7 linked regions of the Homo sapiens genome follow. The protein of the gene in region 6 purifies or fractionates together with the protein of the main gene of each other region. This does not show direct contact. Each region holds a gene or a part of one and is shown on either strand. Other genes may lie near its edges.

Region 1 (3,500 bases), on a different chromosome or scaffold from region 6:
CGATTCTCCTGCCTCAGCCTCCTGGGTAGCTGGGACTACAGGCATGCGCCACCATGCCCAGCTAATTTTTGTATATTTTTTAGTAGAGGCATGGGTTCACTATGTTCATGTTGGCCAGGATGGTCTCGATCTCTTGACCTCATGATCTGCTTGCCTTGGCCTCCCAAAGTGCTGGGATTACAGGTGTGAGCTACTGTGCCTGGCCTAATTTTTTATATTTTTAATAGAGATGGGGTTTCACCATGTTGTCCAGGCTGGTCTTGAACTCCTGACCTCAGGTGATCCGCCCGCCTCAGCCTCCCAAAGTGCTGGGATTACAGGCGTGAGCCATGATGCCTGGCCAAAAATGTAGGTTTTTAATGTCTGACTATCTGTCTAGCAATATGTATATAAACCCTTGGGTGAGCCTTGCTCAATAAGTTCATTCTTAAAGTCATGAGAGGCCGTTTCAGTTTTGCTTTTCCTAGCCTTTCAGAATTATGTTCTTTGAAACAAAGGTCAATTTTATTTTGTGGAAAATCTTACTGTAAATTTTATTGTATTCTGTTTCTTTACCTGGGCTTGGTTTAGATGATGATGAATGCATGTGCCAGCCTTTTCTTGGCGAGGTTAGTGAAATGCAGTGCTTGCATTCTCCACTTGGAGCTGCTGATCCAGCACAGAAAAACAAGCCCAATTCATGGCAGTGTTGATCTCTTAGTACTAAATTGTGGGGAAAAAATTGGATGCTGATTATCTTTGTTTTGGGAGAGTTGGGAAGGAGAACGAGATGTTTGCCCAAAACTGATCATTATTCTAATTATCTTTGTTTTGGGGGGTTTGGGAGGGAAAATGAAATGTTTGCTTGATATTGATAATTATTCTAATAAGTAGCCAATTGTATTTAACAGTTTTCAGTTTTATACTGTTGGAAAAGGCTTTAATATGGTGTACAGTAAATGTCCTATTTTAAGTTTGATGAATTCCAAATTTGACGCAATTAAAAAATAACTTGGAGGAAGCAGAAAGGTGGGATAAGCACCTATAAGTAATTCTGTAGTTGAGTGGAGATAATAAAAGATGTTTTTAAAACTATGGGTTGGAAATAGGAAATCTGAAACTATGTTAAAATAACTCTTTTTACGCTGGGGTAAAAGTATGGAAAAGTATTGTTACTGTTGACAAATTTTCTGATGACTGTTATGTCATGATCTGTTATAATTTTCAACTTGTTAGGTAATTAACTTTCTTAGTGGCTTTTTCTGCCTTACATTTTGAATGCCTTTTCCAGTTCTGAACTCTTTTTTTTTTTTTTTTTTTTGAGACGGAGTCTCGCTCTGTTGCCCAGGCTGAAGTGCAGTGGCACGATCTTGGCTCACTGCAAGCTCCACCTCCCGAGTTCAGCCATTCTCCTGCCTCAGCCTCCCCAGTAGCTGGGACTACAGACGCCCGCCACCACGCCTGGCTAATTTTTTGTATTTTTAGTAGAGACAGGGTTCACCGCGTCAGCCAGGATGGTCTCAATCTCCTGATCTTGTGATCTGCCCGCCTTGGACTCCCAAAGTGCTGGGATTACAGGCATGAGCCACCGCGCCTGGCCCCAGTTCTGAACTCTTAATAAAGCACGTGCCCCCAGATCTGATGTTGCACACTCCTAGGCAACCGGGCACAAGTGTCAGTCACAGTGGGGGCTGCGTGGTGGCTCACGCCTGTGATCCCAGCACTGGGAGGCTAGGCGGGAGGATCACTCGAGCTCTGGGGTTCAAGACCAGCCTGGGCAACAAAATGAGACCTGTCTCTACAAAAAAAAATTTTTTTTTTAATTAGCTGGGTGTGATGGTGCAGCCTGTAGTCCTGGCTATTTGAGAGGCTGAGGTGGGAGGATCAGTTGAGCCCCAGAAGTCAAGGCTGCAGTAAACTATGATCACACCACTGCAGTCCAGCCTGGGTGACAGAGACCCTGTCGAAAAAAAAGAAAAGTGTCATTATCTTGATATGTCTGCAATCAAAGCATAATACTCTGCTGGGTGCAGTGGCTTATGTGTGTAATCCCAGCACTTTGGCAGGTCGAGGCAGGTGGGTCACCTGAGGTCAGGAGTTCAAGACCAGCCTGGCCAACATGGTGAAACCCTGTCTGTAGTAAAAATACAGAAAATTACCTGAGCGTGGTGGCACAGGCCTGTAATCCCAGCTACCTGGGAGGCTGAGACTTGAGAATTGCTTGAACCTGGGTAACAGAGGTTGCAGTGAGCTGAGATTGTGCCACTGCACTCCAGCCTGGCAGTCTGGGTGACGGAGTGAGACTGTCTCAAAAAAAAAAAAAAAAAAAAAAGTGGCCAGGCACAGTGACTCACACCTGTAATCCCACTACTTTGGGAGGCTGAGGCGGGTGGATCACCTGAGGTCTGGAGTTCGAGACCAGCCTGGCCAACATGGTGAACCCCCATCTCTATTAAAACTACAAAAAAATGACCTGGGTGTGGTGGCAGGCACCTGTAATCCCAGCTACTCAGGAGGCCGAGGCAGTAGAATCACTTGAACCAGGGAGTTGGAGGTAGCAGTGAGCCGAGATGGTGCCATGGCAGTCCAGCCTGGGTGATAGAGTGAGACTTGGTCTAAAAAAAAAGGCAGGTGTAGTGGCTCATGCCTGTAATCCCAGCATTTTGGGAGGCCGAGACCGGTGGATCACTTGAGGTCAGGAGTTCGAGACCAGCCTGGCCAACATGGTGAAACCCCATCTCTACTAAAAATACAAAACTTAGCCCGGTATGGTGGCACATGTCTGTAATCCCAGCTACTTGGAAGGCCGAGGCAGGAGAAATGCTTTAACCTGGGAGGCGGAGGTTGCAGTGAGCCAAGATCACACCATTGTACTCCAGCCTGGGTGACAGAGCGAGACTCTGTCTCAAAAAATAAATAAATAAATAAATGAAACATTATGCTCCACTTATGATAACATCTTTCCCATATCCTAAACATATCACAAGCCTCAGATTATGACCTCACTACAGGATATGAATTGAATTTAAATATTTCTAGGTTATGGGAAATTAAAATTATAGTAGGTTGAATTTAGATCTGTTGTGCAGCTTTCACACTTGAAAAAAATACTTTAACAAGGAATAAATTATATAATTTTATGTTAGTGATGTCATAAACATCATTTTTGCTTTAAAATGAGACCGGTTAAGATTTACCTGTACCCAGATGATAAAGTTTTGGTAGAAAATATTAAATGGGAAAATAGAAAAGTGTGTATCTACATATATTCCTTAAGGTCTTATGTGTATCTAAGTGGGAGGGAAGTCTAATAGTTAAAAAATATAACTGTGGCCAAGGGCAGTGGCTCACGCCTGTAATCCCAGCACTTTGGGAGGCCGAGGTGAGCAGATCACGAGGTCAGGAGATTGAGACCATCCTGGGTAACACGGTGAAACCCCGTCTCTACTAAAAATACAAAAAATTAGCTGGGCGTGGTGGCGGGCGCCTATAGTCCCAGCTACTGGGGAGGCTGAGGCAGG
Region 2 (3,500 bases), on a different chromosome or scaffold from region 6:
CGAGACCAGCCTGAACAACATGGCGAAAGCCTGTCTCTACAAAAAAAATACAAAAATTAGCCAGGTGTGGTGGCACATGCCTGTAACCCCAGCTACTCAGGGGGCTGAAGTGGGTGGATTGCTTGAGCCTGGGAGGCAGAGGTTGTAGTGAGCCGAGATCGGTCCACTGCATCCAGCCTGGGTGACAAAACTAGACTCTGTCTCAAAAAATACAAATATAAAAGAGCCAAAACAAAAAATGGGGTTTGTACTTATACATTATATTTTTCCTTTTATGAGGTCGCCTGGTCACAGCATGAACTGAAGAATGTAACATCGGGTGCTCCCATCATGCTTTCTGTCCTGATAATGTTTGCTGTACATCTCTGCTTAGGCACTCACATCTCATAATTATTCCAAAATATAATGTTTTGCTTAAAAAAAATGCTCATTTCACGTAAAAAAATCCCCCAAATATGCTGCAAATGTTACTGTCCATCTGTGCATATTTGCAGGTGTCAAACAACTGGTGAGTGCTGACAATGCATTATTATGTACCTAGATGATTCAGGGATAATTTATTAGTAATATTTCCCCAATTTATGATTATCTAAAGTATGCACTTACAAATGTGCAATACCATTTCAGCCATTAATGGCAAAGTTAGCCAAATAAATGATCATTTATCAAAACCCAGAAACCGACACAGGCACAATCTACTTAACATTTCAAAATTAAGTTACCACTAATAGAAGCATTACAATTTTTCCACTGGATTATAATGGGAAATCATGGTTTATGTAAGTTTTGGCCTATGAAAAAAACATTTTATAATCACTTATAAAACACATTTTGTTTTTTGTTTTTTAGGGACAGGATAGGGTCTTGTTCTGTTGCTCTGGCTGGAGTGCAGTGGCGCAATCACAGCTCGCTGCAACTTCTAACTCCTGGGACCCAATGATCTTCCTGCCTCAGCCTCTTGAGTAGCTAGGACTATAGATGTGCGCTACCACACCTTGCTAATTTTTTTTATTTCACATGTCTTCCTGAAAAAGCCTACTGCTACAGTTAATTTTATGGTACTACATTAAATCATCTTATAAGTTTATAAAACTTCTTTATCAAGGCTTTTGAGAAAAGATCCTATGGCTCACAAGTACTACAGAAGTACAAGCAATGGGGCAATCGGAGCAAGTACAGAAACATTTGTTGTGTACTTAAAAAGCCTTTTCACTATTAAGGCCTACTAATCATCATGATGCCAGTTTTGTTATAAACAGGGAAATACAGGTGATACTGTGATACTGGATACATTATTAGGAATAAATCCAGAAGTGATTTCTGCATATTATAGACACACTCCCTTGAGCTATCTTCACAATCTTATCACACTTAAAATTCTAGGAATTTTAATTTTGTGAAATTCAGCAATTTTAGTTGATAAAACTTAAATGCAAACTCTTAGGACTTGTCATTTGTCATAACTTTATGTAAATACACCTCTTTCTTTTAATAAACACATACTTCAAAATTTTTAACATTTTAATCTATTTAAAATTTATATATTTTTTGGTGCTCAGTATGAGGGAAAGAATCTAGAGTGACTTTCTCCAAATGATCAGGCAACATTATTAATTGGAACAGACAGCCTTCTCTCCACTAATTTAAAATAATACCTTTATCATCTACTAAATTCTTTTAAGATGAATTCTTGCTCTGTTGCCTAGGCTAGTGTGCAGGGCCGCAATCACAGCTTGCTGCCACCTTAACCTCCTGGGCTCAAGCAATCCTCTAGCTTCAGCCTCTCAAGCTGATAGGCGCACACATCACGCCCAACTAATTTTTAATTTTTTTAGAGACAGGGTCCTGGTATGTTGCCCAGGCTAGTCTCAAATCCCTGGCTTCCATCTTGAACTCGCAAAATGTTAGGGTTTCAGGCATGAACCACTGCACCCAGGATAAATTCTTATTTATACTCGGATCTGTTTCTGCCTGCCTATTGCTTTCTATTCATCTCTTTCTTTTTTCCTGCATTGCTACATTTTATTATCATGTCAGTAAACCCATTACTTTTATTTTTCAAATATGTCCAGCCACACTTCCATGTTTATTTTAAAGATAAACTGTTTTACTAAGTTCTCCTACTATTCTATTTGCATTGATTTTTAATTAATTTGCAATAAATTTGTTAACTATGAGGAGTAAAGTCTTCCCAACATCTTTTTTTTTTGGGGGGGGACAGGGTCTTGGTTCTGTCGCCCAGGCTGGAGTGAGGTAGTGCAGTTAGGGCTCACTGCAGCCTCGGCCTCCTGGGCTCAAGTGATCCTCCTGTCTCAGCCTCTTGAGTAGCTAGGACCACAGGTGTCCACCATCATACTCTGCTTATTTTTAAAATTTTTTGGTAGAGATGAAGTTTCACTACGTTGCTCAGGCTGGTCTCAAACTCGTGGGCTCAAGTGATCATCCTGGCTTTGCCTCCCTAAGTGCTGGTACTGTTCTTGTTCTTCTATCTAGCAATAAGATATGTTTTTTCCATTACATGCAACTTTTATGTCCCTGTCTTACATTATTTATCATAGAAGTTGGTCATATTTCTTAGTATGACCAACTTATTTCTTATTATATATTTTGTATACAATTTCTATTTTGCATTACTGTAATCATCTTTTCTCCTCATTACATAATCAATGGATTAGGCTTTAGGACTATTAAATTTTTTTTTTTTTTAAGATGGAGTCTCGCTCTGTCGCCCAAGCTGGAGTGCAGTAGCGTGATCTCGGCTCACTGCAACCTCTGCCTCCCGGGTTCTCCCACCTCAGCCTCCTGAGTAGCTGGGATTACAGGTGCACGCCACCATGCCCGGCTAATTTTTGTATTTTTAGTAGAGATGGGGTTTCACCATGTTGGTTGGCCAGGCTGGTCTCGAACCCCTGACCTCAGGCGATCCGCCTGCCTTGGCCTCCCAAAGTGCTGGGATTACAGGCATGAGCCATCGTGCCCGGCCAGAACTATTGACTTTTGTATATTTAATTTACATTTTGCCTGTGCCTAATTTAAGTTCCTTATTAGTTCTCATTCTTCATGAATAATGCTAATTTCAATATTTATGCTTCTTTTTCATGTGTTCCTGATTTAACTAAAAATTCCAGAATAGGCCGGGCACTGTGGCTCATGCCTATAATCCCAGCACTTTGGGAGGCCAAGGTGGGTGGATCACTTGAGCCCAGGAGTTCCAGACCAGCCTTGGCAACATGGCGAAACCCCGTCCCTACAAAACTAGCTGGTGGTGCTTGCTTGTGATCTCAGCTAATTGGGAGGATGGCCTGAGCTCAGGAGGTAGAGGCTGCAGTGAGCCATGATCACACCACTGCATTCCAGTCTGGGAGACAGAGCAGGACCCTATCTCAAAAAACAAACAAACAATCTTTAGAATGTTTAAAAATTAAGCAAGTAGGCTGGACGCAGTGGCTCACATCTACAATCCCAGCACTTTGGGAGGCCAAGGCAGGTGGATCACTTGA
Region 3 (3,500 bases), on a different chromosome or scaffold from region 6:
CAGTGGTGCGATCATAGCTCATTAAAAAAATTATTTATTTTTTATTTTTTGAGATAAGATCTTTGTCACCCGGGCTGAGTGCAGTGGTGTGATCATGGTTCACCGCAGCCTCCACATCCTGGGTTCAAGCGATCCACCTATCTTAGCCTCCCAAGTAGCTGGGACTACAGGCGTGTACTACCACGTGTAGCTAATTTTTAAGTTTTCTGTAGAGACGGTGTCTTCCTATGTTGCCCAGGCTAGTCTCAAACTTTTGGGGGCCTCAAGCGATCCTCAAAGTGCTGGGATTACAGGTGTGAGCCACCATGCCTGGCCTTCCTAGGGTATTGATTCAATTTTATTTTACAGATGGCTAAAGAAATTATAGTTTATGAGTTTTCATTACCAAACGTTTATTGAATTTCCATGTCCTTGGTAAAGGCAAAATTAGAATGATAGCATTCTCATTTTAAGAGTTTATTTTCTTTAACATTGGGTAACCTTAATCTCTCCATCCTGAGATGATTAATTTAAGCTTAAAATCTTGAAAACCATCTTGTCAGATGGAAAAGCTGTAGCATACCAATTCATTGACAGAGTTACATGGGACCTTTTATCTTTGGTATTCCCTCCACCAAAACTTCCCCACGAAAAAATTCCCATCAAAGTCTAGCCATGCATATGTTGGTATCCATAACACATTAAAATAGTACTGTCTTCTGCATGTTTTAAAATGTTATCAAATATCAAATGTTATCAAATGATACCATATGTATCATTTTGTGACTTAGTGATTTTGGTGAACATTGTTTTGTAGATATACCTGTTTTGATTCTAGATAATTTATTTTAATAGCTATATAGTATGCATATGCCACAGTTTATTGGTTTTGTTGATCAATTTGTTCTTTCTTGCTTTTTGCTATTGGGAATATTTGTGTGTATGCTCTAGAGTTTATCTAGGGCAGTGTTGCTAAAATTGCAGGACTTGTTAGTGATCTGGAAATTAGTGGGCTGAGATCAGCATTTTCTTTTAAAATGAAATTGAACAAGATAAAATAGGATAGAGTAGGGTAGAATAAAATAGCATAAAGTAGAAAAATGGAAAAGATATCAAGCATCTCATGTAGGAGGAGTAAGAATTATTTTGTGAAATTTCAGTTATATATACATATATAACTGAATATATATATATATATATATATATATATATATATATATATATATATCATGAATCCTTTGCTCACTTTTGAATTGTGTCGTTTGTTTTATTCTTACTGATTTGCAGGCATTCTTTATATATTTTGTGTATGGATCCTTTCCAAGCTGTCCATTATGCATGTTACAAATATCTTCCCCCATTCTGTGGCATATTTTTCCTTTTGTTCAAGTTTACTGCTCTTTTCTTTGTGTTTTATGCTTTCCTGTCTTATGTATGAAATCTTTAACTGCTCTGAGGTCATAAATATATTTCTATACTTCTAAAAGTTTGAAAGTTTTGCTTTTTTTTACATTTCCACATGGATTCTCTTTTATTTTCCATATGGAAATACTATAGATTAAATTCTCCTTAGTGTGCATTTTTTCATGTGTTTCAGTGTCCAAATTGTTGAAACCCTCTCCTGAAGCTTATAAAGTATGATATTCTAAAGTTACATTTTATAACTTTAGTATTTTTATAATAGAGCATCTCTGCTGCTGACTTTTTAATAGTAGATAGCACAGATACAATTTTTAAGCTGTATTTTTCTCAGATAAAGAATGGATTGTTAAATGTGCAAGACAGTATATTCTTTTCCTTCTGTTTTTCTCTAATAGAATTTATTTGTGTATTTATATTTCCAGTCACATTAACTTTGCTCTAGAAGACAACTTTACAAGGATCTAAAAGGAACAGGATTAAAGATGACTGAATACTGGGTTCCAGAAATTTAAAACAATCAGGTACAAAAGTTTTTGGAGGGAATGCTCCCAGCCAGTCAGTATAAAATAGAACTGTTGAGAATGTACACAAGAAAAACTTAAAGTATCTAGCCCTGAAATACAGTGGAGGGTCCCAAAACAAGGGCTTTGGAATAGTCCTGGTTCAAATACTGGCTCTGACACTGATTGGTTGGTGACTATTGGTCACGTTACTGAAATGTGTGAATAAAATGGAGGCAATGATTAACCTGTTTCATTTGGATATTATAAAGATTAAATAAGGTGAGGCACTTAGTGCCTGGCACAGAATAACTTTATTTTTACTGTTGTTATTGCTGTTGTTATTTAGAATACATTTTATCACATCATGGATATGGCTTTCTGTATGTATATTGTGAATTGTTATTTTAAGTATATATATCAACATATTGTTAATAGCCTGGTGAAATCACATGGATAACAGGGTAAGGTAATCTCCACGTGTAGTGCACAAACTATACATGCAAATTGGGGATGATAGTTTTCTTTATTATGTATGCATCACATTGAAATAATGTAAAAAAAAAAGCCAACCATCTCCCACAATGCTAAAAAATTCAAAACACTTTTTAATAGTATTATACAATAGTAATTAATCTTGATTTATTTTTAAATCTTGAAGGACTTTCTGATTGACAAATATGAAATTATGTTAATCTTACATTTCATTCAATTTGAATCCTGCATGTCATTTCTTTGAATGTGGTAATTTCCATGACATACATACAATTATGTCTTAACCTGATGTCAGATAAACAGAATGGCCTGTTTTCCTACCATTCTAATTTTAAAGAGTTTAATTTTACTTGAAATTGATAAAAGACACTGAAAAGAGGTTATTTCCTACTCAAAAGCCCAGGATCGGTTTTTCATGATTTTAGCACATTAGGAAGATTTCCCTTCTGCTAGGAACGAAAGGGGGCCTAGGGTAGTGCAGTGAGGGGCAGTCACATCTCTACTTGGTCCCTTCTTTTTTCTCTTCTCTCCCTCTTTCTTCTCCTCTCCTTTTATTTTTTATTCCAGTAAACTTGGGGCAAATATGGAAAAAGTGTTTCCTGATAGGGTGAGGCAGAAGGAGAGGGAACTTTGGTTACAGGCCAGTTCCAGTATACAAAAAGCTGGGTTCTAAGGATGCTTTGTATGAATACGTTGCGTTTTACTCTGAGCCATGGGCTGTGGGTTATAGCAATGAAGGAATCGTCTGCCCTTTTGAAGAACTTACCAATTAATAGAGAAGGTACATCATACAAGAATAACTGTCATATGAGGCAGAATTTGAAAAATGCCTTCAATGTAGTTAAAAACAAAACAAAAAGTGCTGTGGAAATACAGAGAAGAGGTCCCAGCCCATTTGGGTAATCAGGATCCACATTGATGTAAATCTCAGTGGCAGTCATGCTGGGTCTTAGAGAAAATTAGGATTTTAACAGATCTGCTAAGATGCCATAGATAATATGTAGTAAGTATTAATTAAAATGACAGAATATCTTTCCATATTGTCAATCAGATCGGTTTATAAATTTTTAAGTGAGAAACTTCTAAGTAATCTTCTAAAAAGCA
Region 4 (3,500 bases), on a different chromosome or scaffold from region 6:
TAATAAATAAAGAAATTCTGTATGTAGGCCAGGTGCAGTGGCTCATGCCTCTAATCCCAGCACTTCGGGAGGCCGAGGCGGGTGGATCACTTGAGACATCAGGAGTTCTGAGACCAGCCTGGCCAATGTGGTGAAACCCCGTCTCTACTAAAAATACAAAAATTAGCCAGGCGTGGTGGCAGATGCCTGTAATCCTAGCTACTAGGGAAGCTGAGACAGGAGAATGTGGCAGGCGGAGGTTGCAGTGAGCCGAGACTGGCCACTGCACTCCAGCCTGGGCAACAGAGCGAGACTCCATCTCGGAAAAAAAAAAAAAAAAAAAAGGGCAGGGCACACGGTGGCTCATGCCTGTAATCCCAGCACTTTGGAAGGCCGAGGGGGGCGGATCACCTGAGGTGAGGAGTTCGAGACCATCCTGGCAAACATGGTGAAATCCCGTCTCTACTAAAAATACAAAAATTAGCCGGGAGTGGTGGTAGGCTCCTGTAATCCCAGCTACTCGAGAGGCTGAGGCAAGAGAATCGCTTGAACCCGGGAGGTGGAGGTTGCAGTGAGCTGAGATCATACCATTGCACTCCAGCCTGGGGGACAAGAGCGAGACTTTGTCTCAAAAAAAAAAAAAAAAGAAAGAAAGAAATTCTATGTGTAGATTGCCAAATGAATAAAATATTTAATACAATCTATATTCAAAGTCACTGTTCATAAGGAAAAGATAATGCTTAGTTAGCAAACCACCTCTATGGTAATAATCCCCAATATACTTTCTGCTTTATAAAAGAAGTCTGAATTAGGCTATTTAAGATACAGAACACTGTTAACATCCCAGAAAGTCTCCTCTAGCCCCTTCCCAGTCAATCCCCATTTTCATCTCCGGAAGCAACCACTGATCTGAATTCTATCACCACAGGTTAGTTTTGTCTGTTCTAGAATTTCATATAAATGGTATCATACAGTAGATAACTTTTTATGACCAGCTTCTGCCATGTAGCATAATATGACTGAATGTATCAGTGGTTTATTCATCTTTCTTGCTAAGTAGCATTCCATTATTTATCAATTTCCTTTTTGATGGACATTTGAGGTGTTTCCAGTTTTTGGCTATTACAAATAAAATTAGTATAGGCTGGGTATGGTGGCTCACACTTGTAATCCCAGCACTTTGGGAGGCTGGATGGGAGGATCGCTTGAGCCCAGGAGTTCAAGACCAGCCTAAGCAACATGGTGAAACCCTATCTCTACAAATAAATTAAAAAATTAGCCAGATGTGGTAGCATGTGCCTGTAGTTCGAGCTACTTGGGAGACTGAGGTGGGAGGAACACTTGAACCTGGGAGGTTGAGGCTGCAGTGAGCCGCGATTGTGCCATTGCACTCCAGCCTGGGCCACAGAGTGAGACACTGACTCAAAAAAAAAAAATAATAATAACTCACCACCAACAAATAAAGCTAGTATAAACATTTTTGTACAAGGTTTTTGGTAAATGTATTTTCTCATTTCTCTCGGGTAAGTAACTAGGAGTAGAACTGCCAGATCATAGGATATATGTAGGTTTTCACATATGCTTTTTTTTCCTTTTCAAAAATGTTTTCTTTTCCACACCAGAATAGATCACATATGCTTTTGATTAATTAAAAAATATGAGTTGAAATGAATGTGAGCTGCAGGAAAGGTTGAGATAGCATCTGTTTTCCCCTAGTATCCAGAACAATGTCTGACATAAAGTAGGTGCTCAATAAATATTTGAATAAATGAAATAGAGCAACGTCAAAAAATTAAAAAATGACTTACACCTAATATTTAAGACCACTCTGTAGTCTCTTCCAGTTATGCTGGTTTTTGTTGGGTTTTTTTTCTGTGTTTTTTGTTTTTTTCGAGACAGAGTCTCCCTCTGTCGCCCAGGCTGGAATGCAGTGGCGCCATCTTGGCTCACTGCAACCTCCGCCTCCCGGGTTCAAGCAATTCTCCTGTCTCTGCCTCCCGAGTAGGTGGAATTACAGGCACGTGCCACCGTGTCCGGCTAATTTTTGTATTTTTAGTACAGAACGGGTTTCACGATGTTGGCCAGGTTGGAAATTACGCTGTTTTTGCAGACAATTTTATCTACTCAATTTCACCATGATCATTTTTTCTTTAACAGAATTGTTCTTATATCAGAATCTTACTTGCCAAGCCCCACTTTTTTCTCCTAATATAAAAAAAAGATTTGTTGGCCGGGCGCAGTGGCTGACGCCTGTAATCCCAGCACTTTGGGAGGCCGAAGCGGGCAGATCACGAGGTCAGGAGATCGAGACCATCCTGGCTAACACAGTGAAACCCTGTCTCTACTAAAAATACAAAAAATTAGCCAGGCGTGGTGGCGGGCACCTGTAGTTCCAGCTACTCGGGAAGCTGAGGCAGGAGAATGGTGTGAACTTGGGAGGCGGAGGTTGCAGTGAGTCGAGATCGTGCCACTGCACTCCAGCCTGGGTGACAGAGCGAGACTCCATCTCAAAAAAAATAAAAAGAAAAAAAAGATTTGTCAATTTCCTTTTCCAACCTCACTAATTGTTTTATAGATAAAATACTTTGTTTTGTTCTATCCTCATTCTTTGTTCTTTGAACATTTACTGGACTAAATAATTACAGTATTATCTACTTTTTGGTCCAGTTCTCAATTTTATATTCATTATTAAGGCTACACTTACTATTTCATAATTAATCTATAGATTAACTTGTCTTTAAACTCTGTGTCTATCTGATTCATAAAATTTTCACCTGTAAAAGTAAGGTCACAGGTTAAATTAGGTTTCTGTTTCTAATAATTTACCCACTTTAACATTAACTTTATTCTCAAATTCGTTACATAACCTTAAATGCAAAATAAAATTTATTAAATAATTTACAGAGTCAGCCAAGTGTGGTGGCTCACGCCTGTAATCCCAACACTTTGGGAGGCCAAGGCAGGTGGATCACTTGTGGCCAGGAGTTCGAGACCAGCCTGGCCAACATGGCGAAACCTGGTCTCTACTAAAAATACAAAAATTAGCTGGGCTTGGTAGCACATGCCTGTAATCCCAGCTATTCCAGTGGCTGAGGCAGGAGAATTGCTTGAGCCCAGGAGGCAGAGGTTGCAGGGAGCCGAGATGGTGCCACTGCACTTCAGCCTAGGCAACAGAGTGAGACTCTGTCTCAAAAAAGGAAAAAAAAAAAATTAGAGTCATTATTAAAAAACATTATTTTTGGCCAAGTGTGGTGGCTCATGCCTGTAATCCCAGCACTTTGGGAGACTGAGGTGGGCGGATCATCTGAGGTCGGGAGTTTGAGACCAGCCTGGCCAACATGTTGAAACCCCGTCTCTACTAAAAATACAAAACATTAGCTGGGTGTGGTAGCACATGCCTGTAATCTGAGCTACTTGGGAGGCTGAGGCAGGAGAATTGCTTGAACTCAGAAGGCAGAGGTTGCAGTGAGCCGAGATCGTGCCATTGCTCTCCAGCGTGGGCAACAGAGCAAGACTCCATC
Region 5 (3,500 bases), on a different chromosome or scaffold from region 6:
TTCCTCATAAAGTCATTGTTATTATATTTAACTCATTGTTTCAGATTGAGGAATTGTGACAATTTTGGCTTCCACATCTTTGCTCACATTACCTACAGCTAGCTTTCTCCCCATCAGTGCCTGTTAAATTCTTTCTTCAAATATTGCCCAAATACTAGTCTTTTCCTGAGGCATTCTCATTAAAATAATAAATGTATGTACTAAATAAATTGTATTACATTTTCTATATAAATTTACACTACATGACATGAGAAGAACAACCCCAAGATTCTGTGATAAGAAAAGGATGAATAGTTCTTTAAGTGATGCTAAGACACAGACTAAGAAGAAACAGAAACAAAACGTGGTAGTAAGAGAACCTGAGTACAAGAGTTTTTGAGCTTCTCTGGATGACCACAGTTGGTTTTCTTTCTACCAAATGATATTATGTTAGGAATCATATAAATATGGTTAGGTCTTATTTAAGAATCCACTCCTTCATTTATAATGTGACGGGAATGTGGCTCTGACATAGTGGAAGACATACACAATTGAACAATTCGAAGTTATTTAGTCATATAATACAATAACATTGCCAAAGACTTAAAGATATTTAGATGTGTTAACAAGTATATTCACAAATTCAAAAGACAAAATGATACAGAGTTTCCTTCAGGAAGATAAATGTAAAATCAGCTACAATTTACAAGTTAAAAAGTCACTAAAATTTTTAATTAAATATAAAGTAACAGGAAGCAAAGATGAATTAGACAGACTTCTGCCCTAAAAGAGTTGACTAATTGGTGGGACTAGGACGGGGTGAGACATTATAGTGTTGCAGTTAAAGAACATGGGCTCTAGATTTAGACAGACTTGCATTTGACTCCAAATACTAGAACTTAATAGCCACGAAACTTTGGATAAGTTAAACTAATTCCTCAAACCTGTTTATTTTAAATCTGTAAAATGGTTCTGAAAATAAAAATTACTTCTCAAGAGTGGTTTTTATAATTAAATGGGATAAAGTATAAAAAGTAGTTATCACAGTACCCAAAGCAAAATACATTTGTAATAAATAATTGGCTTCAATTACTGTTCTTACCCTAATTCTTGTCAGAAACATCTTTATCATCATTTATTATTATTGTTATTATGACTACTTCTACTATTGCTGCTGCTACTACTACTACTATTGCCATTCCTGCTAGTATATGATGATGAGTGGTAATAAGTTAGCCTGAAATCAGTTATACTTTGAAAAGGAAAATAGCACAGCTGGACAGTTAAACGGCAGAGAGAAGAGCCAACAGTAAATTCTTGCTATGATCCAGCCAAGAGATGTGGAGAGCTTTAGAACAATGGCTGTGATAATGAAAAAAAAAAAAAAAAAGTAATACGAAAGCAAAATAGTGAATAGCAATTACTTTCCTAGAGCGTCCTTTAAAAATAATAACAAACAAGCTACCTAGAATTCACTTAATGTCTTTTTAAACCACAACCATTCTAATTTTCAATTTGCCTTAGAAGGAATGATATTTAGTCTTTTACATTACTCTGAATTCCTTGTTGGAATTATTATTAACTACTTAATGATGTTCAGAGCTTTAAGAAACACTTCACATTACATTATTTCAAAATGTCTTATGCAGCTATTCCTTAGAACACCTACAGCAGAGAGAAACAAATGATATCAAACAAACAAAATGAATGAATTACTCATTTTACCACTTTCCCCAATTTCCATAATTTAACTAATTGGTAATTAGAGAACTGAAACATTAGGACTAATTGAATAAAGGGCAAAAAGAAAGGACTTTTAAGTATTCACAAAAATTTTAAAGATCTTGTTGAAATAAGGAAAGATTATAATTAACCTTAGATTTCACTATAAAACACTGTTTTTATTTGTCTTTTTAAAAATGTAAGCACACTTTTGAAGTGTCACTTTTCACTAATATTTAACTACCTAGAATGAAGTGTTATGTGTGATTTGCCCACAGAAATCTGTAACAGAATTTGAGAGAGGGATGAATCCAGAAATGGTGATTAGCAGAATGAGGAAGGGCTCTAACATACTAACTTTTCCAGAAGACTGAATGCCTTTGATCATAGCCAAGCAAACCATGACCCAGGCAGCCAACAAGCAGATGGTCATCTTCCAGTTTAAGCCCCCACTTTCAGAAATGGAACTTGAAATATTCAGTGCTTCCCTGTACCAGTAATAGGTGGTGGCAGAACTTTGTTCACATTCTGGTTCTACAACTGTAGAAAGAAAAGTAACACACAATTATTTCAGAATATAAAGAGCAATGCGACAATTTCTTTTCCAATAAACCTGTAAGTGAATTCTTAATGCTTCCTAGAAAAGTACTACCATTGTATAGCAGCATGTAAATTCACAATGAACAATAAAAATTCAACTGTGCAACAAACAGAAATGTATCCTGTTAAATATTTCTTATGCAGTCCTGCAGTAAGAATATGTGAACCTCTTATCAAAGTAATTTTTATTTATTTATTTTTATTTTATTTTATTTTTATTTTTGAGACCGAGTTTTGCTCTGTCGCCCAGGCTGGAGTGCAATGGTGCGATCTCGGCTCACTGCAACCTCTGCCTCCCGGATTCAAGTGATTCTCCTGCCTCAGCCTCCCAAGTAGCTGGGATTATAGACACCCGCCACCAAACCGAGCTAATTTTTGTATTTTTAGTAGAGATGTTGTTTCACCACATTGGCCAGACTGTTCTCAAACTCCTGACCTCAGGGGCTCTACCTGCCTCGACCTCCCAAAGTGCTGGGATTACAGGAGTGAGCCACCGCACCCAACCCCTTATCAAAGTAATTTAAACAAATCAGGTTTATCACCCCTACTACCCTTGGAATTATGGGATTGACTCCCTGGGTAAGCATTGTCAAATATGCTAGCTGCTGGCCACATGTTGCTTTAGAAATGGGGCCAATCTAAAGTGACATGGGTTACAAATGTGAAATTTGAACTAGATTTCAGATTCAGTATAAGAAAATTATTGTGAATTATTATATTAATAATGTTTAGAGTAATTATATATTGAAATAGTATTTTTATATAATAGATTAAGTAAAATATTTCATCTATTTCTTTTTACTTTCTTTAAACATGTTTACTTGAAAAATATAAACTATATCTGTGCATTACAATCTATGTTTACTAGACATCACTACTATAGGTGACTGCTCTTTATAATATTTATATTATATTATGGGATTTAAAAAAATGATGGGAAAAGTATGAAACAACAGAACCAAAGACATAAAAGCAACTATTTTCATTCAAATTCTTATTTCTGTCCCCTTTCTGTTAGTTTTAATGAAAATGTAAGGCATCAATCAGGGCATACAAAATAAAGATTATCAAAGTTAATAAGTGAAGGCTTATAATACTTTACCCTAATATCTTAGGGCATAGTAAAGTAACTTGGAAAGAGCTAAAAAAATTAGATGGTCCCAAAAGTCTATCTCTAAGAGTATGTCAATCCTGAATGT
Region 6 (3,500 bases):
GTCCTGCAATTCTCCAGGAACAACTCAAACTTCACCAGGATAGCTTTACAACAGGTTCAGACATATTAAATTTGTCCCAACTTTGTATTTCAAAATGTGACAGAGCTGAAGCATGTACTCTAGGGTGAGGGCTTTACTGCCTAGAGATGAAACCTGCAGGACTGGGTGCGGTGGCTCACGCCTGTAACCCCAGCACTTTGGGAGGCCGAGGTGGGCGGATTACCTGACCTCAGGAGTTCAAGGCCAGCCTGGGCAACACGGTGAAACCCCTGTCTCTACTAAAATACAAAAAGTTGGCTGGGTGTGGCAGCGTGCACCTGTAATCCCAGCTACTCAGGAGCCTGAGGCAGGAGAATGGCGTGAACCCAGGAGGCGGAGCTTGCAGTGAGCCGAGATCCCGCCACTGCACTCCAGCCTGGGCGACACAGCGAGACTCCGTCTCAAAAAAAAAAGAAAAAGAAAAAAGAAATCTGCAGTTATTTGCTGCCTATTCAAACATTTGTTAGGCACCACGAAGACAGCAGCCTACAGGGGGAAGGTAGTCAAAGATGAATTAAGACATATATAGGCCGGGCGTGGTGGCTCACGTCTGTAATCCCAGCACTTTGGGAGGCTGAGACAGGCAGATCACCTGAGGTCGGGAGTTCAAGACCAGCCTGACCAACATGGAAAAACCCCGTCTCTACTAAAAATAAAAAATTAGCCAGGTGTGATGCATGCCTGTAATCTCAGCTACTCGGGAGGCTGAGGCAGAAGAATCGCTTGAACCCGGGAGGCGGAGGTTGCAGTAAGCCAAGATAGCGCCATCACACTCCAGCCTGGGCAACAAGAGCGAAACACTGTCTCAAAAAAAAAAAAAAAAAAAAAAAAAAGACATATACAACCCCTGCCACCATGAGCTCAATTTCTAATGGGGATTATAAGTCATATGTACAAAGGAAATCAAAGCAGAATGAGATTTAAATAAAAAAAAAAAAAGGAGGATAGAATCACTAAATGCAAAAGCTGGCAAGCACTTCAGTAATCACACTTCTATCCACACTTCTGGGACAGCCACAGACTCTTGGTACATACCTCCCCCATTTCTAACCCCTAAACTACAGAGAGCATAAACAACAAAGAAAACCAGAGGTTTTTTTTTTTTTTTGAGATGGAGTTTCACTCTTGGTGCCCAGGCTGGAGTGCAGTGGCATGATCTCGGCTCACTGGAACCTCCGCCTCCCAGGTTCAAGTGATTCTCCTGCCTCAGCCTCCTGAGTAGCTGAGATTACAGGCATGCGCCACCATGTCCAGCTAATTTTGTATTTTTAGTAGAGACAGGGTTTTACCACGTTGGCCAGGCTGGTCTTGAGCTCCTGACCTCAGGTGATCCGTCCACCTCAGCCTCCCAAAGTGCTGGGATTACAGGCATGAGCCACCACGCCCGGCCTTTTTTAGACGGAATCTCACTCTGTCGCCCAGGCTGCTGGAGTGCAATGGCGCGATCTCAGCTCGCTGCAACCTCCACCTCCCGGGTTCAAGCGATTCTTCCGCCTCAGCCTCCTGAGTAGCTGGGACTACAGGTGCGCACCACCACATCCGGCTAAGTTTTTGGATTTTTAGTAGAGATGCAGGTTCACTATATTGGCCAGGCTGGTCTTGAACTCCTGACCTCATGATCCGCCCGCTTCAGCTTCCCAGAGTGCTGGGATTACAAGTGTGAGCCACCACGACCCGCGAAAACCAGAGTTTTAAGCCTTGCTCTGACAATCAACTGATTCTCATGTTGATAATTCAGGGTGAACATCCCAGGAGAAAGGAATAAGAGTGTAAAGGCAGCAGGGAATTAGGCAGTCACAGAGCAGTAAACTGCCTCATTTGCCAGGGCATAGGATATGTGGAAGAAGAGTATGTGGTACAAAGAAAAAGGGTGATTAGAATCAGAGCTTGAGCCACATGTGGTGGCTCATGCCTGTAATCCCAGCACTTTAGGAGGCCAAGATGGCCAGATCACTTGAGGTCAGGAGTTTGAGACCAGCCTGGTCAACATGGGGAAACCCTGTCTCTACTAAAAATACAAAAATTAGCTGGGTGTGGTGGCAGGTGCCTGTAATCCCAGCTACTTGGGAGACTGAGTGAGGAGAATTGCTTGAACCTGGGGCATGGAGGTTGTAGTGAGCCGAAATCGGCTCACTGAGGGAGATCGTGCCACTGCACTCCAGCCTGGCGATAGAGTGAGACTTTGTCTCAAAAAACAAACAAACAAACAAAAAAAAAAACCAGAGCTTGAAAAGGCTCTGAATGCCCCACTAAGAAGTTCGGATCTTATTCCAAAAGCAGTATTTGATCTGAGGTAAAACAAGGGATATATTTCTAAACAAGCAACAAAAACAAATCACAAAAGACTGATAATAGCTGGTTGAAAGGAATTTTAGGAACCTCTTAATTCTTTAGGGGCAGATAATGGAAAGTATTCAATCCTTTTATTTCTCAAATATACCACCTAAATATCTCTACTATACGTACTATGCTAAGCAAGCTTTTTACATGTTTTATCTTTTTTATTTATTTGTTTTTGAGACAGGGTCTCACTCTGTCACCCAGGCTGGAGTGTAGTGGCTCACTGTAGCCCTGAACTCCTGGGCTCAAGCAATCCTCCTGCCTTAGCCTCTGGAGTAGCTGGGACCACAGGCGCAAGCCACTATGACTGGCTAATTGTTTTTTATTTTTAGTAGAGATGAGGTCTTGCTGTATTTGCCCAGGATGGACTCAAACTCCTGGCCTCAAGAGGTCCTCCTGCCTCAGCCTCCCAAAGTGCTGAGATTACAGGTACTGTGCCCAGCTACATGTATTATTTTATTAAGCTCCATGGAAGAGAGTCCAAGAGTCTGTCTCCTTCACCTCTGTATCCCTAGCACCCAATAAGTGTCTAGCATTTTGGAAGCAGTCCAAAAAATGTGCTGAGTAAATCCTCACAACAACCCTGTGAGGTAGACATTATTATCATCCTCACTTTATAGATGAGGAAACTAAACTTCGAAGAGGGGCAGAAACATGCCTGAGAACACAAAGCAGTGGCAGAGCCAGACTAGAATCCAGGTTTTCATACTCCTAGCCCAGTGACCTTTTCACTACACCACAATGCCACTAGAACAGAAATGTCTTAGTCACAGTGCTCTCCTCAAAATCCTTCCAAGGTTCCCCACTGCCTACAGAAGAAAACCTAACCAGCTCAGTGCCAGACATGAAGACCTTTGTCTCCTTTTTCAGCTGTTTTGCGGCTGCCAAGCATCCTGGGCCCTGCACTGCTCGTGGCCAGCTTCTTCATGGTCCCCATGTGTGCCATCTTGCTGCTTCAGCTAAGCCTTCACACTCCACCCTCTAAGCCCAGCCCATTCTCAGCAAGTTTCCACCTCTGAGCTGCTCTAGCAATGCTCATCTGTGCCATTCATCACAAGTTGTCTTCTGTTAGTTGGTTAGTTGGTGATTCAGAAACGTCTTTTTGTCTCCTCAACCAGGTT
Region 7 (3,500 bases), on a different chromosome or scaffold from region 6:
TCCTGAGTAGCTGGGACTACATGTGTGTGCCACTACACCTGGCTAATTTTGCACGGGATAGGGATGGAGGCCTGGCTATGTTGCCCAGACTGGTCTCAAACTCCTGGCCTTAAGTGATCCTCCCACCTTGGCCTCCCAAAGCACTGGGATTACAGGCATGAGCAACTGGGCCCAGCCTCTTGTTCTTTTAATTTCAGAAGTTGACACTGTGATTCTGAGATATTGTCTACTCTAAGAGCCTATAGCCCTTTACATACTTACAATAGATGACCCAATGAATGATGTCACCTTTTGTTTACAGCTGTTGTTCTCTGGGATTTCATAATAACATTGCTAGGCAAATGAGAAAATACCAGATCTTTAAAAATGAAAAGGAACCTGGAGTAAAAATTAAGTGATAATCTCCACCATCCCAGTATCACCATGCTGGGACTATCATTTCACCCTAAACAAATGCAAAGGTATGACACAACTACATAGGATGCAGAGCCACATTCCTGTTAGGCAACTCTGACAAAAAAGATTCAAGTGGCTCTACCTGCTCCAGAATTACTAAGACACTTTTTTCCTGGAAACCTTGGTACTGTCATTTTAAATAATTGTTAGGTATAGAAATACACAGAATTATCAAAAGTTAACTCTCCCTCCCACAAAGTGGTTAATTTTACATATAAAATAAAACAGCCGTCAAAATGTAAACCTTGCTATACTTAATGTGTCTGTAATAAATCATGAGATCAGGCAGCCCTCTGCTAGGACTGGCATAAGGAACAAATCAAAACACAGATTGCTCTGTATTTGTTTCTACTGCTGCTCTACCACAAAGTTAGAGGCTTAAAAGAACACAGATTTTTTTCTCCTACAGTTCTGGAGGTCAGAAGTCCAAAATGGATCTCTCTGAGCTAAACATCACAGTGTCAGGAGGACTGTGCTCCTTTCTGGAGGCTCCACGGGAGAGCTCATTCCCTTGCCTCCTCCAGATTCTGGAGACTGTGTGCATTCCTTGGCTTGTGGCCTCCTTCCATTTTCAAAGCCAGCAATGGATGTTTGAGTTTTTCCAATAATGTCAACTCTCCTGCTGTGACTCTTCTGCTTCCCTTTTCCACTCAGAAGGTCCTTGTGATTACACTGGGCTCACCCAGATGACCCAGGATAATCTTAATGTCAACATCAGCTGGTCAGCACCCTTAACTCCATCTGCAACCTGAATTCCCCCTTCCGTGCAGGATGAGTGAGAATCCCTTATCTGAAATGCTTGGGACCAGAAGTCTTTTGGATTTTTTTTTGAATTTTGGAATATTGTCATTACTTTTCATATACATCTTATATGCAGATTGAAGGTAATTTTGTATGTTCTAAATAATTTTGTGCATGAAACAAAGTTTTGACTGTTTTAACTACGACCCATCATGTGACGTTAGGTGTGGAATTTTTCATTTATGGTGTCACATTGGCACTCAAAAAGTTTCAGATTTTGGAGCATTTTGGATTTTCAGACTAGGAATGTTCAAGCTGTGTAACACAACAGATTCATAGGTTCTGGGAATTAGGATGTGAACATCTTTGGGGAGCCATTATTCTGCTTACTACCATCTCCAACAGTAATTAGAAAACAAAGCAACCTCAAGTGTACAAGCTACTCTCCTCCGATAAAGATTTTTAACTATTTTAATTTACAACAAATGAAAACCCTAAAGCTAAAAAAATAAAAAGAATGCTGTTAGGACAGGAGGCCTGAGATTGCTGCTAGTCTTGCTCAGCTGAGTGTGCTGAGTGGGGGATGGGAGAATGCATGCTTCCTTCCCGGATCATCACCAGGGTCGACCATGCACTCAGAAGCTTTTACAGGGAAATGCTTGATAACACTATAGTGAAAATTAGTATCAACGTCTTTTTTCTTTTTTGAGAAAGGATCTCACTCTGTCGCCCAGGCTGGAGTGCTGTGGTGCAATCTTGGCTCACTGCAGCCTCAGCCTCCCAGGATAAAGCAAACCTCCCACATCTGCCTCCCAAATAGCTGGGACTTCAGGTGTGCACCACTACACCTGGCTAATTTTTGTGTTTTTTGTAGAGGAGGGGTTGCATCATGTTGCCTGGGCTGGTCTCAAACTCCTGGACTCAAGCTATCCACCCGCCTTGGCCTCCCAAAGTGCTGGGACTACAGGCATGAGCCACAGTACCCAGTCTATCAATGTCTTTCAATAGCAATATTGAAATATATAATCTAGTTGTAATCCTCCACATGGTAAACCAAGGAGTTGATCATATGTTTGAACAGGTGCAATTTTTTTCTTTGGCAAAATTGCATACACAAAGACACAAATAGGGCCCAAACTGTGAGAAACATGCTAGATTCCACAAGCAACAGTGCAGTGATTAGACTCTGCAGTCAAGCTGCCTGCTTTCAAAATCTAATTCAACTATTTACCACCTGTGTGGCCTTAAGTACGTGACTTAACCCCCCTGTGTTTCAAGTAGGATCCTTAAAGTGAATTTTAGGAGTAAATGAGTAACAGTTTTAAGTACTTAGAACAAACCCTGACACATAGTGAATATAAGTATTTGTTAAATAAACTTTTAAATGCTCCTGCTTGCTGCTTATAACTTGCCAATGAAACTATATTTCAAGGGAGCAAACTTCTCAGCCCTAGCTAATTTACCATATGGCATATATTTTATATATACGTAAATATATTCAATGACATTCATGCAGAAGAACTGGTATATTACACTAACCAAAACAATACCCTTTGTTGCTATGAAAGTTTGGTAGCAACTACTGGGGTAGTAATAACTGGGTGGTTCAACAACTCGCTGAACAAATGCAAATATCAGAAGACAGTAGCAGCTGTGTTAAATAAACTGTCTCAGGGCCTCCTAAAGAAAGACGCACAGCACTGGCGAGGACAGTAGGGTTTGTGATTCTTAGTGGCCCGGGCACTTTCTGGGACAGTGGTGTTCATGGTACAATACTCCCCAGAAGCCTAAGCTCTGTGAGGGACAGTACCAGTTGTGCTAGACTACCGCTACCAGCATCTGCTAAGAGGGCAGGCATATTGTGACTGTGGCTTGAAAAGCTTTTCAGCATTCACAGCTGATGTTATACACTTCTTATGAAAGTTCTTGAATTCAATGGCAGTGTACAACCAACTTCAATCATTTTATTTTAACCCCAAAGGAAACGGGGAGGGAAAAATATGGGACAGGCTCCAGCTCCTATTAGCACAGCCAAGATGTAACACTTGAATGTGGATATACCATTCCAAAAGATACATGCCACCTTAACGAGAAAGAATGGTTCCATTTGACACAACGGGACTGAACTCTTTGTTTTAAAAGTTAGAAGTGCAGCTTATATGCAGAAAATAATGATTGCTGAGCCCTTGAATATTTACCATGAAGCAGGCATTACTCTCAATGTTTTATACACAGGGAGCCATGTAATTCGTATAGTCACCTTATGGGGTAAATATTATTTTACTCCCATTATACAGCCAAGA

What was found.
Region 1: the proteins of KIF2C (region 6) and HABP4 purify together in Homo sapiens (affinity purification with mass spectrometry; one large-scale study listed by BioGRID and IntAct). This does not show direct contact.
Region 2: the proteins of KIF2C (region 6) and LSM14A purify together in Homo sapiens (affinity purification with mass spectrometry; one large-scale study listed by BioGRID and IntAct). This does not show direct contact.
Region 3: the proteins of KIF2C (region 6) and RCBTB2 purify together in Homo sapiens (affinity purification with mass spectrometry; one large-scale study listed by BioGRID and IntAct). This does not show direct contact.
Region 4: the proteins of KIF2C (region 6) and SAR1B purify together in Homo sapiens (affinity purification with mass spectrometry; one large-scale study listed by BioGRID and IntAct). This does not show direct contact.
Region 5: the proteins of KIF2C (region 6) and SLC6A15 purify together in Homo sapiens (affinity purification with mass spectrometry; one large-scale study listed by BioGRID and IntAct). This does not show direct contact.
Region 7: the proteins of KIF2C (region 6) and SGMS2 purify together in Homo sapiens (affinity purification with mass spectrometry; one large-scale study listed by BioGRID and IntAct). This does not show direct contact.

The regions. Positions count from the first base shown.
Region 1 is NC_000009.12:96,453,169-96,456,668, forward strand, and holds part of HABP4 (intracellular hyaluronan-binding protein 4), read left to right. Parts: intron 1-3,500. UniProt on the Homo sapiens protein: Ribosome-binding protein that promotes ribosome hibernation, a process during which ribosomes are stabilized in an inactive state and preserved from proteasomal degradation.
Region 2 is NC_000019.10:34,210,504-34,214,003, reverse strand, and holds part of LSM14A (protein LSM14 homolog A), read right to left. Parts: intron 1-3,500. UniProt on the Homo sapiens protein: Essential for formation of P-bodies, cytoplasmic structures that provide storage sites for translationally inactive mRNAs and protect them from degradation. Acts as a repressor of mRNA translation. May play a role in mitotic spindle assembly.
Region 3 is NC_000013.11:48,523,081-48,526,580, reverse strand, and holds part of RCBTB2 (RCC1 and BTB domain-containing protein 2), read left to right. Parts: intron 1-1,823; 5' UTR 1,824-1,922; intron 1,923-3,500.
Region 4 is NC_000005.10:134,615,829-134,619,328, forward strand, and holds part of SAR1B (small COPII coat GTPase SAR1B), read right to left. Parts: intron 1-3,500. UniProt on the Homo sapiens protein: Small GTPase that cycles between an active GTP-bound and an inactive GDP-bound state and mainly functions in vesicle-mediated endoplasmic reticulum (ER) to Golgi transport.
Region 5 is NC_000012.12:84,881,800-84,885,299, forward strand, and holds part of SLC6A15 (sodium-dependent neutral amino acid transporter B(0)AT2), read right to left. Parts: intron 2,242-3,500; coding exon 2,060-2,241; coding exon of another isoform or gene 1,946-2,059; exon of another isoform or gene 1-1,945.
Region 6 is NC_000001.11:44,742,837-44,746,336, reverse strand, and holds part of KIF2C (kinesin-like protein KIF2C), read right to left. Parts: intron 1-3,500. UniProt on the Homo sapiens protein: In complex with KIF18B, constitutes the major microtubule plus-end depolymerizing activity in mitotic cells. Regulates the turnover of microtubules at the kinetochore and functions in chromosome segregation during mitosis.
Region 7 is NC_000004.12:107,831,432-107,834,931, reverse strand, and holds part of SGMS2 (phosphatidylcholine:ceramide cholinephosphotransferase 2), read right to left. Parts: intron 1-3,500. UniProt on the Homo sapiens protein: Sphingomyelin synthase that primarily contributes to sphingomyelin synthesis and homeostasis at the plasma membrane.